Linked DNA regions of Homo sapiens: regions 1 and 2 are each linked to region 3. The links come from fine-mapping of genetic effects on gene expression. A gene starts in region 3. Each other region holds a variant in brackets. All regions are shown on one strand. Distances are between the middles of the regions.

Region 1 (4,242 bases), 280 kb before region 3:
AGCAGCAGATATGGGGACCTCTGTAACTGGCACCCTGGACTAGAAGCAAATATCTGCAATTGCCTAAAACATATAAGTGTGTGTGTGTGTGTGTCTGTGTATCAAGAACACCCTTTGCAGAGGGTAAAGAATAGGAACAAAACTGTCTTGAAAATGCTGTGTCATTAACACAGAGGTAAGAATGGAAAGCAGGCCAGGTGCAGTGGCTCACACCTGTAATCCCAACACTTTGGGAGGCTGAGGCATTTGAGGCCAGCATGGGCAACACGGCGAAACCCCATCTCTACAAAAAATACAAAAAAATACATGGTGGTGTGCACCTGTAGTCCCAGCTACTCAGAAGGCTGAGATGGGAGGACACTTAAGCCCAAGAGGCAGAGGTTGCAGCAAGCCAAGATCATGCCACTATATTCCGTCCAGCCTGACAGAGCTAGACCCTGTCTCAAAAAAAAAAAAAAAAAAAAAAAAAAAAAGAATGGAAAACAAACATATACAATGCAACCTCAACTGGCAGGATGAAACCCCAGGTTCTTGTGTTAACTCCGCTGGCTGGGCAGCCCAGGATGGGTCACTTTCACTCTCCATCTCCACACTGGTACGGGAAGAAATTGGGCTGGGAGACAGATCACTCAGGTTCTTCCAGTTCTAACTCTCTGTGACTCCTTGATTCTAGTTTGCGCTACCAGGCAAGGTTCTATGTAAAAATAGAGGTTCCTCTTCAAAGACTTTCCTCTCCATTTAATTAGGAATAAATAATAACTTCTCTTAGAAGCAAAATTTATTCAAAAACCTGTGCTAACATTCTTAAATATCTGCTAGTCGTAATAAGAAAACCAATATACTTTATGTTCTTAGCTCCCACAATTTAGCCTAAATATTTGCCCTGGCATGCTTATACTGGTCCAAGCAGGCATTAGTTCATAGCCTGTTTCTCTTCCTTATTTAAAGGTGTTTTTACCTTTCTCAGCATTCCACAAGTTACTTCCTCCTTCCTTTTTTCTCCTCTAGCTTTGCCTCTTTTAATAAGTTCTAAGTTGCTAGCCAATCGGGACAAATACAGAATGTGAGGTCCTGTTCCAGCCAATGGAAACCGGACACAGCAGAAGGGTGGACGCGTCAGGTTATAAATGACCCTGTCTCCTTTGTTCGGGGTACTCTCGTGGCAAAACTGCTGCCAAGTGTACCCTTTCTGCAGAAAATAAAAATGGCCTTGCTGAATAAATTTAAGTTCAAGTACTATTTCTTTACGGCACCGGGGAACAAGCATTTCAAACTGTTATATGTCCACTGGCATGACCTCCAAAATGACCTCTAATTTTGGCCTTCTAAAATCAGTAGGACAGCTTTTTATCTCAGAGGGTAGTCACAGTAGTTGGGCATTCCTATGTGTCAGGGCCACCTGGCAAAAATTCCAATGCAGTCTCCTTCAGGGGCAGGGGCCTGCTGTGTCCTCTCCCCTAGCACTGGACTCAGTAAGGCAGGAGGGCAAGACCCATCCAGATGCTGTCCAGGATGAGGGTGAACAAAGGGGTCAACCTCTGTCTCTTCCAATGACCACAAACCAAAGGGACTCAGAGTACCAAAAATTTTACTAACATAAATAGGAAACTTGGGGACTGAGCACACCAGAGCCACTTGGAGGTAAGAGGGCCACTCTGCATACACTTTCTGTTAGTCAAACCAAATTAAACAGCAGGAGCTCCCCAGCACTCCCCACCATGACCTGTCTACTCGAAAGTCCCGGAGCTTTGTGAAGGAGGGCGGCCTTTAAGAATGGTCAGAGGCTCTCTCACCCTCTGCTGGGGGAAGAGTGGGGCAGGCAAACCCGGCATAATCCTTAGAGAGGTCAGGAGAGATTTCTTTCTAAGGCCAGGGTCTCCTGTGGCCACTTTAGGAGTCAGGACCCGGGGCCAGGAAGACGGCAGTGGGTTTGACTTGCATACATTAGGCTCCTGCTAACTGGCAGTTTAAATAAATTGAAGTAGGACTTTAGCTTTTCCTTAGCATTTCTGCCTGAGTTTCAGCTGTTTCACCAAAAGGTGAAACAGCTATTGTGCAAAAACTTTTCTAATAAAAGCCCTGAGTCATCTGGTCTACTTTAAACTTCAGAGAAGAGTTAGTGGCTTTTACAGTTCTTTTCCATTTTGAGGAACACTCCTGAACTTTGTTTTTTATCAAGAACTGAAACCCTTTCTAATCACTTCAGCATTTAGATGTTTTTAAATCTTGCTTTAAGTAGTTTCACTTTTGATTTTTTTCAGTTATGTTTACTGGGTTATGATAAAGGATACAACTTAGGAATAGTTGAGTGGAAGAGATGTGCAGGGCACGGAAGTGGGGTTGGGGCACGGAGTCCCCATGCCCTCCCGGG[G/A]CCCCCTGGCAGCACTTCCGTGTGTTCACCAAGCCAGAAGCTGCAATTGTGAAAAAATATTTCCCCATGATTTTCCAATAGGCTTTCACCTAATAACGCAACAGATGTGGTGTTTTATGGTTCACAACCCACTTTCCAAGGAGCTATCTCATCAGATACTCATGGAGCAGGCCCGCTACCATTGCTAAAATGCAGACTCCGCCTCTGGGAGTGTTGATGGCCACACCCAACTGGCGTGGGTTTATTTTGCCCTAAAGATACATTTTTAGGACTTCAAGTCTTTTCCTGTCTCCTGAGGAAATCCTGGGATGATTTTGCCAAAAAGTCCCACACACCAGCATTTGTTTATACCTATTTCCGGGAGTTATAGCTGGAAAAGGAAGAAATATGATCATGATCAATTTTCCTCTTGTAAAAAAATTTTTTTCTTTTTTTTTTTTTTTTTGAGGCAGGGTCTTGCTCTGTCACCCAGACTGGAGTGCAGTGGTGCAATCACGGCTCACTGCAGCCTCAACCTCCCAGACTCAAGTGATCCTCCTGCCTCAACCTCCCAAATAGTGGGGAATACAAGAACACACTACCACACCCAGCTAATTATTTTTATTTTTTGTAAAGATGGGGTCTCACTATGTTGCTCAGGCTGGTCTCAAACTCCTGGGCTTGTGCAATCCTCCTGTCTCAACCTCCCAAAGTGCTGGGATTACAGGTGCTGGAATTACAGTTTCCCAAAGTGTTAGGATTACCATGCCCAGCCTGTTTCCCTTTTAACACACTCAAATAAATCTGATGCAAACTCATTATAATGGCATGGACTTGACTAGCCAAACATATAACTATGATTGTTTTCTTAAGAAGGATTTTTAAAAAGCACAAGTCAACAGAACTTCTTGAAACTTCTGTATTGTAGGTTGGTTGGGCCAGCTCTCAACCAAACTACCAAGCATCAATACCCCTCTTCAGTCTTCTACTATCTTTCAACTCTCATCTCTTCAAATAGTGGTGGTCCCTCCTGTCTACTGAGCCCTTTAAGCAGGCATTCCTATATTTCATCAAAACCTAAAAAAGAAGTGGAATAATCTGTCATTGGCTTGAAATAAAATGTCTTGGTGTGAACACGTCACTTACCTTCTTAACTCTCCCAAGTATATTTTATATTTTAAACTTATTTCTTATATTGAATGAAAGGAAGGCTTTTCTGTTGTTAATAAAATGTTAGGCATTGGGAGGCAGATGGCATATTTGGAGGGGACAGGAGAAGAGGCAAAAAGCTTCCCGGGGTCCAGGCATGGTGGCTCACACCTGAAATCCCAGCACTTTGGGAAGCCAAGGTGGGAGGATCACTTGAGTCCAGGAGTTTGAGACCAGCCTGGGCAACATAGCAAGATGTCTCTACAAAAATTAAAAATTAAAAAATTAGCTGGTCATGGTGGCATGCATGTGTAGTCCCAGCTACTCAGGAGGCTGAGGCAGGAGGATCATTTGAGCCCAGGAGTTTGAGGTTATAGTGAGCTATGATTGCACCACTGCACTCCAGCCCTCAGCCTGGGTGACAGAACAAGACCCTTTTATTTTCTAAAAGGAAAAAAAAAAAGCAAGCTTCCCAGGAACCCAGGAAGTGTTACTTGTCCAAATAATACCTTAGTGTATACATTCTGACCCAAAGTTTTAAATGAAACTTAAAAAGTGCAATGTGAAGTTGTGTCAGTTAAGATTACTGACTTCAGTTTTCTGTTCTTCAAATGTTGCCTTTGTCTGAATGCCTCTGCAGAAAGGCTTGTTGAGAAGATGCATATACATATGTATGTAGAGTATTATGTATGTGTCTCTGCATATGTGTATACATATGTGCATGAAGATGCAGCGTTTTACAA
Region 2 (4,242 bases), 42 kb after region 3:
CTCAGGTGATCCACCAGCCTCCGCCTCCCAAAGTGCTGGGATTACAGGTGTGAGCCACCACGCCCGGCCAAAAGAGGGTAAACTTTCTATGTCAAGAGGCTCCTTGCAGACAAGGAAACTTATAAGATCATACAGCATAAAGGCAATCTCTTCATTTTAAGCAAGATAATTTATCTTTTAACAATTCGATGGTAAGTATGGTAATTTTAATGGTAAGTATGCAAAAGTGACATCATCCTTAAAAATATGAGGGGGAAATAGGAAGCCTGAATTCTAAATCAACATTTTAAAGCAAACAAATTAATAAAAGATGTAAGAATGCAGATCATGCAGTACAACCACCACCTGCCAAATGAAATGACAATGAAAACTAAAATGGCTCAGGACAAAAATAGCAAATGAAATGTTTATACAAAGCACAATTCAAAAGAAAGTATACAAATAAACATCTTATGTATAGAATGAAGTAGACCTGGTAACTGAAGGAGAAAAGTCGTCATATTCATAAGAAGGAGAGAGATCAGGGCGACTGCCACTACCCTGTGAGAAGGGAATGTCTGATGGACTAATTCCAAACTCCTTTACTCTGCAGCACCAAAAGAGCAACAAATTAAAAGAAAATGCTCTTGAAAGACAGCAATGCACATTGCACATTTTCATTTAGTATTCACTTTTGTTTAGAAAAGGATATTGATATTGTTGTGACAATGTATTTAGAATATTATTTTACAAATAACAAATTTTAAGAGGTTTTTGAACATCTTTGTTCTATTGATCCCCTGCTCTATAGTCCTAAGTCTTTCCTTTCTGGTGTATTTTCCTCTTTTCTCATAATCCTTCCTAGAAGTTTAACTAAGTCACTTAAATCTGAAATGCCCCCCTAACTACATGACCACTCAATCTAATTTCTTCATGTAGTCAGTACCATGACTATTTGTTTATTAGCATTCATGAGTCTTCAACATTTTTGCAGTCTTTTCCAAACAGGACACAAGGGAATTAAGTCCTAATGTCTTAAGGCATCCATTGTTTGTAATGAATTAACTTCTTTCCTATGCATCCAGAATGGCATTAGCTGTGAAATGTCCTTGGTATAACTGAGAAAATATTCACTCTATTTTCAGTGGTTGGTGATTCAGATGAAGAACTCTGGTTGAGAACAGCCTTTAGCAATGAAATTTAAATTGCTTTTGCTAACATCTTCAATAGTTATATTTAACCAAATTATGACTTTTCTCACCCCATCTATGTAATTCCTTATGTCTCTTTTGGGCCAACCCTATTTCATACCCATATAAAATATTTATTAAGTACCTCCTGTATGTCAGGTATTAGGATTAGTCATTTTTAGGCATTATATTATTTAGTCCTTCAACCATCTTTGATTTTATAGATGAGAAAAATGACTCAGAAATAAAGTATCTTCTCTAAGGTCATTCACTGAGAATGTGGCATAACTGAGGTTAAAACCTAGCCCTGAGTACAAAGCCTATGTTATTTAAACACTTCAATATAATAACCATATTCTCTGATTTTCTTGTCATTTCTCTTAGGTTGAACTAAATGAAATTCCCTTCTTTTTAGGTCAAAAACAAGTATCAATATCTTCATATAAATCAAACTAATATGTTTCCTCTACTAACAGTCTTTCTTTGACCTATTGGTTAATATCTACTGTCAAAGGTTCAATATTGGATTCATCTGCCTTTTATCCTTAAAGTTTATTTACCACACATGCTGAAAAATCTAAATATGTTTTTTTTCCTTTTTGAGATAAGGTCTCACCATATCACCCAGGCTATACTGCAGTGGCTCAGTCATGGCTCATTGCAGCCTTGACCTCCTGCTCAAGTGATCCTCCCACCTCAGCTGGGACTATCACTGGTGTGCCACCACCCCCGGCTAATTTTTTATTTTTTTGTAGAGATGAGGTCTCGTTAGGTTGCTCAGGCTGGTCTCAAACTCCTGGACTCAAGTGATCCTCCTGCCTCGGCCTCCCAAAGTACTGGGATTACAAGCATGAGCTACAGCGTCTGGCCTGAAAAATCTAAATTTCTAATACAAACAACTATTTTCACTCCCACCCCATTTCTTATCTAAATCTTTTAATTTAGACACCCTATTAGCTTCATCCACACATTTTTTCCTCTATCCAAAGCCCTCTTGCCCAAGCCAGACTATACTACATACAAGAATCACATTCTTCAAACATGTTACTAAAAACTCCTAATCACTCTAATCACTCTTCTACCCAAGACCCAATCACTCTAACCTCTTCCATTACCCAAAGATTAAGTATCTCTGCTTCAGGATAGAGGCCACTGTCTATTTCTCATATATCCTATAAATTTTTTTTCCTTGAGACAACCATTCCTTCCACTCTGAAAGTTTTCCCTTGTACTCTCCTCTAAAATATCTCTAATTGTCTGGCTGGGTGCAGTGGCTTATGCTGTAATCCCAGTACTTTCAGAGGCTGAGGCGGGCAGATCACTTAAGGTCAGGAGTTC[G/C]AGACCAGCCTGGCCAACATGGTGAAACTCCATCTCTACTAAAAAATACAAAAAAATTAGCTGGGCGTGGTGACGGGCGCCTGTAATCCCAGCTACTCGGGAGGCTGAGGCAGGAGAATCGCTTGAACCCCGGAGTCAGAGGCTGCAGTGAGCTGAGATTGTGCCACTGCACTCCAGCCTGGGTGACATAGCAAGACTCCATCTTAAATAAATAAATAAATAAATAAAGTATCTCTAATTGTCATCTGATGAACTAGACTTGTCAACTTAATCACTTAGCAGCAATGTGTACTGTTACAAACTATCCCACAATTCCCATATAAAACTTTCAAAGTATATGATTCTAATATAAGGATATGAAAAAACATTGCTTTCACATCTGTCTAACCGAATTTTTTAGACAGAACTGCTCACTAAAGTAGCAATAGGGATAACTATTCCTATTAATATATCCCAGGTACTGTGCTAAACATTTTACACAGATCACTTCTTTTAGTCCTCAAAAACAATCCTTTAAGATGGACATGGTCATTAGCTGTCTATTCTAAAGATGAGGAAATAAAGACAGAGAGAGGTTAAGTAACTTTCCCGAGGCTTTGATACCATTAAGTAGTAAGGAAGTTATTAAACCTATTTTGTCCTGAGAAATAACACTTCAATCACTAAGCTATGTCTTAAATACAAAAAAAGTTTAAACACTTAAGACAGAAATAGTTTCCTAAAAATATGAAATTTTAATGTAATGCCACCTACCCACCACCTCAAAGTATTGGCCTAAAAAAAATAAGGCAGATTTAGTATAAAGGAGGAATGAATTATTTTTGGCTGTTAAAAAAAAAAATTACTGACTCTTAAGGTCACAAAACATTGGTATGAGTATCAAGGAAGGTTAAAAATCTTTATTCCTAGAGATTTGGAAATAAAATTGAAACAATTATGTGTCTGATATGGTTAGGCTTTCTGTCCCCACTCAAATCTCATCTTAAATTATAATTTCCATAATCTCCAAGTGTCAAGGGAGAGACCACGTGGAGGTAACTGAATCATGGGGGCAACTTCCTCCAGGCTGTTCTCGTGATAGTGAGTTCTCACAAGATCTAATGGTTTTATAGGAGGCTCTTCCCCAGTTTGCTTGGCACTTCTCCTTCCTGCTGCCTGGTGAAGGTGCCTTGCTTCCCCTTCACCTTCCACCATGACTGTAAGTTTCCTGAAGCCTCTGTGGCCATGCTGAACTGTGAGTCAATTAAACCTTCATAAATTACCCAGTCTCGGGTATTCCTTTGTAGCAGTGTGAGAACCGATTAATACAGTGTCCCAGATGGTTAGTCATGTTGCAAGTGAGTTACATGATATAACAGTAGGTTAAAACATTTTACTTTGACCTAAGTGAACTAGAGGAACAGCTAGATATAGCATTTTCACAATATTAGGGAGGAATCTTTTGTAGTTTCAAATCTTAAGAAACAGAGGGGTTTTGTTTGTTTTAATTCTACAACATGGCAAGAATCTATTACACTAGGCTGTTCCTCATCTTTCTCAAGAATTATTCTGAAATAAGAAACATTTTAAATTAATGATAAAAATCCCACATATCAAAAACGTTAATTACCAAGATCAATTAAAACTAACACAATAAGGATTTGCAGCTAGGAGCTCATAATTCAAACTTTAAAGGGATTAAATTTACAAAATATAATAGTTCATACTTAGAAATGTAGTTCTATTACTTTTTTTT
Region 3 (4,242 bases):
ACCAAACACACTACAGACTCACACCAGCACTAAATGTGTTTTGCCATTCCTTAAACGCTCTGAAATTAACAGTCCCTATTTGAAGCTGATAAAGAAAGGAAAAAATATTACCATCAATAACACTAAATTAGAAGTGAGGTTACATACATACACACACACAGGTACAAATATATAACACAAAGGTCAAAATCCAAATAATCAAACATTACCTTACCCAAAATTTGAATATTTTTATTGCTGAGAAAAAAAAATTTTGTTTCTGGAAAAATCTTCAGTGTATTTTAATAGCCACATGCCTACAAGGATCATGCTGCATTCTGGTTTGATTCCAAATGCAAATATATTCAAACATCACAAAATCTAAAAATTGTTCTATTAATGATCAGATAATCTTTACATATTTGTTTAAAACCTCTAACATTACCACAGCCAAATGTGTTTGTGGTGAAAATTCTCTTTGGCCTTAGAAGTTCAACTAGGGCGGAGACCACCCTCCTACCCTGAGACTATAATATATGGCCACAAGCCACTACTATAATTAATTGTTTCTACTATACCCTGTGCTAGGTTACTGCAGAAACAGAGAAAATACCAGTCCCATCATAACCAAAAGGGAAAATGTTTCTACTTTCACCGAAATTTTCCTCAGTGATGAAAGATGTAATATGTGTCATGCAATGGATGTCTCCTATAGAAGAGTCACCCTGCCCTTAATCTGAAGCTCCTCTACTGAACAGAGAAGTTTGAAATAACATGAAAATGGAGGAAGAAAATTCCTATCCCAGGAGGGGGAAAAGCATTATGGCTACAAACTATTCTTCCTTCTGAAGAATAACCGAAATCTGAAGGGCACTACCGCGCTACAACTGAGCTCGTTTAAATTATGGAGGGGAGGAGGTATGTCAACTGCAACCTTGGCACTAGTAGGTAATTTACCAGTCCTTGCTATTTAGTCAAATCACTTTCAGATAGTACTTCTCTCATTCACCAACATGTCACAAAATAATAAAGAAAAAATGACACACGTAATAAGCAAAAGTAGTTTTGCTGAATCACAAATACCCCCAAATATAAATCTACAGGAGTCGCTGAGCTTGAGAATTGGCGGCCATACCTCTCCATGAAGCTCCTCTCTATAAACGGACAACTACCTTCACTTTTTCATTAAAAGCATGTAAGGGTCTAATGTTTAAAGCTATCACACTATTGCTATTAGCAACAAGGTCGCGTGCGCAGTAACAATGCACAACGGTCTTATACTCGAGATAACCACTTTATCTCAAAATTTGCACCACCTATCCCCCAAGGGCAAATGCATCACCCAGGTCCGCAACCGCGGTCACGATGGGTACACTCGCCTCTGCTCAGCCTAGCATACGGTCCCTCCCACCCCGCACCCTGATTGCTCCACTACCATGCTGCCCACTCCCGGGCTGCCTCGGCCAGCCCCCAGTTCCCCGGGTTCCTAAGGTTGCGCAAACAGCCAAGTCTGCAGGCCGCCCTTGCCTCGCTACCGTTATCCCTCATCTCCTGGTAGCCCCACTTTCCTCCCGCCTCTCGGGACTCGGGTGCCCAACCCACTCCCTTCCACTCCCGCGCGCTCGGTGGCTCTCGGGCCGGGGCCTCACCGTTTGGTTCGGTCGGGAATTGCCCGGCCCTCCCGCTCCCACTTCCCAACACGAAGTGGCGTCGGTTGGTCCCTCTCCCCACGCTGCCAGACCCCACGCCGCCGCCTACTGATGCCGAAAGCGGCTTCTAGGAACACGCCATGTTTGGCGTCGCAGCTCCAAACGACGCGGACGCGCGAAAACTACGTCACAGGAGACCAGCGCGCATGCGACCGGCAGAGAGAGAAGGCGATAGGCGAACGGCGGGAAGGGGAAGGAGGGGCTTTGTCTTTGAACCAAAAGGCGCGGGGTATCCAAATCAGTTGTGTGCGCTTGCGCAGTGCGCTTGCGCAGTATAAAGAGCCAGGAGTCCGGACTAGCCGGATCTGTCACCATGGAAACCATAGGTCTGGTTTCTCCGACTCCCAGGGAGCTCAATTGTTTCCTGCGTTGATTGAAGCTTCAATCAGAACCATTTCACGCTTTATATTCTAGATATCAATAGCGGATCCGTCACAGCAGAGAAGAGTTATTTAAAGAATCTTACTCCCATCAGTCCACCCTCCCTCCCGCAAATATTTATTTTTTAAGTTACCCAAATTGCTTGGCGCTTACTCCTGAGTAATAGCAAGAGTGGAAAAATGTAAAAGGACATAAATCCAGTTCTGCTTGCCTCTGCTAAAAGCTAGCATAGTCACCTAAATTTTCTTATCCTTAAAAAGAGAACTTACTCAGGCGCAGTGGCGCGCGCCTGTAGTCCCAGCTACTCCAGATATGGAGGCAGGAGGATCACTTGAGCCCAGGAATTCGAAGCCAACCTGGGACATATAGAGAGTTCACACACACACACACACACACACACACACACCCATTTCAAAAATAATAAGGGGTGGGCACAGTAGCTCACACCTGTAATCCCGGCACTTTGGGAGGCTGAGGCGGCCGGACCACGAAGTCCGAAGTTCGAGACCAGCCTGGCCAACATGATGAAACCCTGTCTCTACTAAAAATACAGTAATTAGCCTGGCGCGGTGGCGGGCGCCTGTAATCCCAGCTACTCAGGAGGCTGAGGCAGGGGAATCGCTTGAACCCTGGAGGCAGAGGTTGCAGTGAGCCAAGATTGCTCCACTGCACTCCAGCCTGGGCAACAGAGCGAGACTCCGTCTCAAAATAAATAAACAAATAAATAAATAAATAAATAAATAGACTCCGTCTCAAAATAAATAAATTAATTAAAAATACACACCAACTATATATTTCTTAAAAATAATAATAGTAAGGCCAGGCACAGTGGCTCACGCCTGTAATCCCAGCACTTTGGGAGGCCGAGGCGGGCAGATCACCTTAGGTCAGGAGTTCGAGACCAGCTTGACCAACAAGGAGAAACCCCATCTCTACTAAAAATATAAAAAATTAGCTGGGCATGATGGTGCACCCCTGTAATCCCAGCTACTCGGGAGGCTGAGGTAGGAGAATCGCTTGAACCCTGGGGGCAAAGGTTGCAGTGAGGCGAGATCGCGCCATTGCACTCCAGCCTGGGCAATAAGAGCAAAACTCCGTCTCAAAATAATAATAATAATAGTAAAAGAAGTTGTAAGGAAATAGAGTGTTCAAAAATATTAATAATAGAAAACCTTTATTGCTAATTTAGAATATTCCAGGTACAGTTTTAAGATCTTTATGGGAATTATCTATTTTAATCCTCAGAACAACCCTTATGAGGTAGGTATTTTCTTTATGTCCACTTCACAGATGAAGAAACTGAAGCACAGAGAAGTCAAGTAGCCCACCTAACGTCAAACAGCTAGTAAAAGGCCATGTTAGGATTTGAACCAAGCTCTGCATTCCAAGAATGTCGATCACACAAGGGCTGTTTTTTAAAGTAAAAAGATAAAATTACCTAAACAACCACCAATGACACAAATGATTAAATCACAATACATCCATACATAATAAAATACAAATTGACCATTTAAAATTATGTTGAGGTCGGGCACAGTGGCTCACACCTGTAATCACAGCACTTTGGGAGACCAAGACGGACAGGTCACCTGAGGTCAGGAGTTCAAGACCAGCTTGGCCAACATGGTGAAACCCTGTCTCTACTGAAACTACAAAAATTAGCCTGGCGTGGTGGCATGCGCTTGTAATCCCAGCTACTCAGGAGACTGAGACAGAAGAATCGCTTGAGGCCGGGAGGCGGAGGTTGCAGTGAGCCGAGTTCGCACCACTGCACTCCAGCCTAAGCGACAGAGCGAGACTCCATCTCAAGAAAAAATAAATAGGCCGGGCGCAGTGTCTCATGCCTGTAATTCCAGCACTTTGGGAGGCCGGGGCATGTGGATTGCTGGAGGTCAGGAGAGCGAGACCAGCCTGGCCAACATGGTGAAACCCTATCTCTACTAAAAATACAGAAATTTAGCTGGGCTTTGTGGCAGGCACCTGTAATCCCAGCTACTCGGGAGGCTGAGGCAGGAGAATTGCTGGAACCCAGGAGGCAGAGGTTGCAGTGAGCCGAGATCGTGCCACTGCACTCCAGCCTGGGCGGCAGAGGGAGACTCTGTCTCAAAAAAATATATATTAATTAATTAATTAAACAAAATAAAATTATCTTGAAGTGTATTTGTTGACATGT

Evidence for each region. PIP is the estimated chance that this variant, and not a neighbour inherited with it, causes the effect. A credible set is the group of variants that fine-mapping cannot tell apart.
Region 1: its variant is the best candidate, but not a certain one, in a credible set for the expression of IPO11 in whole blood (TOPMed, PIP 0.52).
Region 2: its variant is the best candidate, but not a certain one, in a credible set for the expression of IPO11 in skeletal muscle (GTEx, PIP 0.61).

Annotation. Positions count from the first base shown.
Region 1 is chr5:62,688,124-62,692,365 of GRCh38, reverse strand. No RefSeq gene overlaps it. Among named protein-coding and RNA genes, the nearest start is that of LRRC70, 110 kb to the right of the region's middle. The variant G/A (reference allele first, on the strand shown) is at 2,372.
Region 2 is chr5:62,368,782-62,373,023 of GRCh38, reverse strand. KIF2A (kinesin family member 2A) reads right to left here. Exons shown (of 21, transcript NM_001098511.3): 17 at 473-586. Among named protein-coding and RNA genes, the nearest start is that of DIMT1, 33 kb to the left of the region's middle. The variant G/C (reference allele first, on the strand shown) is at 2,508.
Region 3 is chr5:62,410,316-62,414,557 of GRCh38, reverse strand. It overlaps IPO11 (importin 11), which reads right to left and starts at 1,795. Exons shown (of 30, transcript NM_016338.5): 1 at 1,629-1,795. RefSeq lists a silencer at 1,305-1,354 and an enhancer at 1,685-1,874.